Regions from separate parts of the Homo sapiens genome. Here region 2 is linked to region 1. Evidence: fine-mapped expression QTL. Tissue or cell type: whole blood. Region 1 holds a variant in brackets; the other region holds the start of a gene. All regions are shown on one strand. Distances are from middle to middle.

Region 1 (2,796 bases):
TAAGCACCTGTTTCTGACCAGTCTTGCTCCTTAGCAAGGAGAGTCTGAAACCTGTGCTTCCTGAATGTTTGTTTATTTATTTATTTTTGTTTTTGTTTTTTATTTTTTAGACAGAGTCTCGCTCTGTTGCCCAGGCTGGAGTGCAGTGACGTGATCTCGGCTCACTGCAACCTCCGTCTCCTGGGTTCATGCAATTCTCCTGCCTCAGCCTCCTGAGTAGCTGGGATTACAGGCGTGCGCCACCACACCTGGCTAATTTTTGTATTTTTAGTAGAGATAGGGTTTCACCATGTTGGTCAGGCTGGTCTCGAACTCCTGACCTCAAGATCCACCCGCCTCAACCTCCCAAAGAGCTGGGATTACAGGCATCAGCCACCGCTCCTGGCCTTTGGTTTTGTTTTGTTTTTGCTTCCTGAATGTTTACACCTGAGAACATTAAGGAGCAAAACACTCCTGGGCTGGCTGGGTGCAGTGGCTCATGCCTGAAATCCCAGCACTTTGGGAGGCCAAGGAGGAAGGATCACTTGAGCCCAGGAGTTCGAGACCAGCCTGGGCAACGAAGTGAGATCCTGTCTCTAAAAAAAAAAAAAAAAAAAAAAAACACTTGGCTGGGCACCGTGGCTCATGCCTGTAATCCCAGCACTTTAGGAGGCCAAGGCAGGTGGATCACTTGTGGTCAGGAGTTCGAGACCAGCTCTGGCCAACATGGAGAAACCCTGTCTCTACTAAAAATACAAAAATTAGCCCAGCTTGGTGGCAGCTGCATGTAATCCCAGCTACTTGGGAGGCTGAGGCAGGAGAATCGCTTGAACCCAGGAGGCGGAGGTTGCAGCGAGCTGAGCAGTGAGCCAGCCTGGGCAACAGACTGAGACTCCGTCTCAAAAAACAAAAACAAAACAAAAAATCAACACTCTTGAGCTGACCACTACTGCCGATCATCTTCCAGACCCATTTCCTGTGGTCTTGGTCTCCCACTAGGCTGGCAAATAACCATCAGCCACAGCCATGCCCTGGAGGTGGGGCCATCTGGAACCAAGACTGATCCCTTCTGGACTCAGGACTGACTTTGTAATTTGTGAGGCCCAGTGCAAAATAAAAATATGGGGCCCCTTCTTGGAAAATGATTAAGAATTTCAAGACAGTGACAGCTAGGGCCAAATGTGGGGCCTTTGTGAGGATGGGCTCTGTGTGACTGTGGAGGCTGCACATCCATGAAGCTGCCCTGCTGGTGGCAGAGACTTTTCCAGCCCTCCAGGCCCAGTTTCCCTAGAATTCCCCGTGCCCCATGTCGGCGCCTCTCCGCTGTTCTCCCTTTTCCTTCCCCAGTGCCCTCTTACATCCTCTTTTCTGCAAAGTGAGCCAGGAATCTTGGCTGGCGTGGCCTCCCCTTGATGTCTTCAGGGCTATTGGGTTTCCCTTGACATTCATCTGGGGGACTCTGTCTCTTGCTCCGGCATCATTTTGTCCCTCTACTGCCATGGCTGGCTGCACGTGAGGAACCTGGACCACATGGGGCTAGATTGCAAATTGGTACCCCGTGTTTTACCCGTGTTTCTCACACTGGGCCAGCCCACTTCTCCAGCCTCATGCTCTCATGTGCTGAGCAACAATCTCAAGGCATTCTGGGCCCTGACATGACTACGAGTTTTTGAATAGTGTGGCAGAG[A/G]CAGGCTATATATTCGCTAATTTCATTGTACACAACTCCTGGCCCACTGGAAGACTACATTTCCCAGTGGCCTTTGCATCCAGGTGAGACCATGTGACCTGTAACAGACAATGAAATGTGAGGGAAAATGAAGTACAGGACTCCTAGGCCATGTCCCTCTGCCATGTTTGCTCCCCTGACCTGCCTGTTTGTGACACAGATGGTGGAATGACAAGATGGAAGCAATCCCTTCTTACTTTGTAGTCTCCCTTAGAGGCTACACAATGCCCTTCTCCCAGCCCAAGGGCTCAGGGGATGTATCTAGGGGGATTGGCTTTCTCCCCATTTTCCAAGGCGGGTCCTTGCCACCAGCCTCCGTGTTTTCAGGAAGCTCCGTGCAGCCATGGACATGACATTGGCCACAGAGGCAAAGTCATGGTGGGGGCTGGATGTGGTGGCTCACACCTGTAATCCCAGCACTTTGGGAGGCCGAGGCAGGTGGATCACTTGAGGCCAGGAGTTCGAGACCAGCCTGGCCAACATGGTGAAACACCATTTCTACTAAAAATACAAAAATTAGCTGGGCGTGGTGGCACATGCCTGTAATCCCAGCTATTCGGGAGGCTGAGGCAGGAGAATCACCTGAACCCAGGAGGTGGAGGTTGCAGTGAGCTGAGATCGTGCCATTGCACTCCAGCCTGGGCAACAAGAGCGAGACTCCATCTCAAACCACAACGAAAAACAAAGTCATGGTGGGGCCTTGGACACGAATTCTGCTCTCTGGGCCTCGGCTCCCCCACTGGAAAGAAGGCAATCCCCCAGCCTCTCATGATGGAATTCTGGTCCAGGGGACAGCTCTCAGCTGTCTCTGGCTACATCCAAGGGAAGACCTGACTGTAATCTTTGCGTGGAGCCCCCACAGGTCGGCTCCTCTGACTTGGCATAGTTTGTAGAAGCCTGAAGATGATAACCCTCTGGAAAGAGTTTTCCAATATGAATATGTGGGGATGGGCAGGTGTGGCTTCAAAGTTGTAAAAAGGGTTCAGTCCATCTTTACCCCCACTTACCAGCAGGATGACCTTGGTCTAGGAACACCTGTCTGAAGAAGAGATGTTATCCACCCAGGATTAAGTGATGGCAGCACAGGCTTT
Region 2 (2,500 bases), 48 kb before region 1:
AAAAGAATTAAAGAATTGAGGCCGTAGGGGGTGGGGGCCGCGCAGGCCTTTGAATGGGATGAAAAGGCCTGGAGAGGCCTGGCTACTCCACATTGTCTGCCTTGGACAACGGCGGCTGGCCTTTAGGAGGGGACCCTCGCTGGGGCTGCAGCCAGGACAGAGGCCAGGACAGGTTCAAACACTGTCATCAAGGATAGAAGGGCAGATTTGCAACCTAGCTCTTCAGTGAATAGCCCATGAGGCTAAAAGATGATGCCAATTCCCTAGGGTCTCAGTTTGCTTAACCGTTGAATGGGGACAGTTTTCCCTACCTCATTCGGTCCTTCAAGGATTGATGAGGACACTATATATAATAATGGGCCCCACCATGTCAGGTTCTGGGAGCTCCTCCGTAAAGGCCAGCAGGGAGGAGGTTCCCCGCCGCTAGGAGAGCAGAAGGAAGACTGTGCTCCCTCTTTTCTCTGTCCAAAATGCCAGGTCCCTGGGGTATCTCCGACACTGACCCACTGGGCTGTGAGACTCCACCCCAGTCCCTCCTCCGAGGGAGATAAATAGCCTGGGTACAAAACAAACAAACAAAAAACAAAACAAAGCAAAAAAACAGGAACAGGGAAAAGGGGAGAGAGGGTCCGAGAAGAGTCGGCTAGGGGGTGTCATAGGCCTTTCCCAAGTGCAGGGGGAGGGGCCCTAGGGACAGGGGAACAGAAGGGCCAGGGCTTCGCCCTCGTTGCGCCCCTTCCCCCTCCTCTCGAGCTCCTGGGTTGAAAGGGAGGGAGTAGGGGAGGCAGCCAGCTCCGACACATGGAGTAGGGGACCCCGCACTCGCGGGAGCCTCAGCCGGACCGCGGGATGGCCGTGTCCCTGCCCTCACCCGGGCTGGGGACTGGATCGCCCTCCAATCCCAGCCCTTCCTGGAGGTGGGGGCGTGTGCGCGCCGGGACCCTCGGCCAGCGGGGTGCAAAGGCGCCGGGAGCTCTTACCTGCGTCCGGAGAACGGAGCTGCCCCGATGCTCCACGCAGCGCCGCCTCCCGGGAGCAGGAGCCCGAGGCAGAGCAGCGCCCAAGCCCGCGGGCCGCCCATGCTGCACCAGGCGCCCTCCGCGCGCGGCCCCTCGCGGTCGCCGCCCCCAGCCTGTCCTCCCCGCCTGCCTGCCCGCGCCGCCAGCCGCCCCGGACGCGCGGAGCCCGGTTTCCAGCTCCGCGGCCGGAGGGCGGGCAGGAGGCGGGCGGGCGGGGGCGGGGGCGCGCGCTCCCGGCCTCGCCCGGCCCCTCTGCGCTGCCCCCCGCCCCCTGCGCCGCCGCTGCCAACCCGGAAGGAGCCCGGAGGGGCCCGGGCGGCCAGGGCGCCCCCGCCAGGAGGCCCGCCAGGTGTCCACCTGAGCCCCACGCCCTGCGCCGCGGGGCCCTTTTGGGGGCGGGGTGCCAGCTCCGAGGTGTCCTCCCACGGGCTGTAGACTGGGAAACTGAGGCCCGGGCCACGGTCCCAGACGCAGCCGGGACCCGAACCCACCTCACCTGAGCGAATGATATCCGGGACTCATCCTTTTTCGACACCTTTGCGGGATCCAGCCCTCCAAGGAAAGCTTCCTGAGCAGTGCGCGCCACGTGTATTGGGCACCTCACCGCGGCCACTTCACATCCTATCTCAGGTGACTCTTCAAGCCACTCTGCTCGAACTGGGCACAATATCCCCATTTTACAGAAGAGAAAACTGAGGCCCAGGCACTCGCAGTCTCCCTAGGAGGAGATCTGGGCTGACCCCATAAGTGCAGAGTCTGTTCTTATTCTCATTTTACAGGTGGAGAAACTAAGCCACAGAAAGGAGCTGTCATTTACCTAAAGCACCGTGGCAGGGGTTTGGCAGAGCCAGGATTTGTACCCAGATCGCCTGACTTCGGAGAGTAACAGCTCTTAACCACAGCACTTCGGTCTATGCCTTGATTTCACCATATGTAACAAGGTAAGAATTGGTGTTGGGTGGTTTCATCTGGGGTACATGGATGGGCTTCTGGAGGAATGGCTCTACATCCCACAAAGGTATATGTAAGCGTAGTGTGTGTGTGCAGGGGTGCATGTGTGTGTCGTATGTGTGTATGATGGATGTGTGTGCATGCTTGATGTGGATTTATGTGCATGTGTGTTATGTGTGTGTCTGTGATAGGAGTGTGTGTTTATAGGGAGAGACCAGAGCTCTCATCAGAGGGGACCCAGACCCCCAATCTCCCAGGGCAGTCTCTAACCCCGCCTTCTGCCTGGATCGATGGGCAGTAGTTAGGCCTGGGCTGGGGAAGCCCTTGCCCAGCTTGGCTACTTCCTGTTATGGCTTGTCCAGACCCACGGTCCCTTCTAGAAACACTCCCCAGAAAGGATCTGCCAGTCACTGGATTGCCCCTCCTGGACTCACCAGGGGCAGGCAGCATAGGCCACCATAGGCAGGCAGGCAGGCAGGACGGGGGATCCATCACCAGTGTGTCCACATAGAGAAAGCTGTTGCCCTGTC

The links. PIP is the estimated chance that this variant, and not a neighbour inherited with it, causes the effect.
Region 2: EMID1 starts here. The variant in region 1 is fine-mapped to the expression of EMID1 in whole blood (INTERVAL, PIP 0.95).

What each region holds. Positions count from the first base shown.
Region 1 is chr22:29,156,930-29,159,725 of GRCh38, reverse strand. It overlaps a transcript of KREMEN1 not described here. Among named protein-coding and RNA genes, the nearest start is that of EMID1, 48 kb to the left of the region's middle. The variant A/G (reference allele first, on the strand shown) is at 1,667.
Region 2 is chr22:29,204,620-29,207,119 of GRCh38, reverse strand. It overlaps EMID1 (EMI domain containing 1), which reads right to left and starts at 1,224. Exons shown (of 15, transcript NM_133455.4): 1 at 981-1,224. The coding sequence starts at 1,081. LOC101929638 (a long non-coding RNA gene) reads left to right here and starts at 1,288. Exons shown (of 5, transcript XR_938134.3): 1 at 1,288-1,649; 2 at 1,799-1,960. RefSeq lists silencers at 790-849, 870-1,029, 1,040-1,129.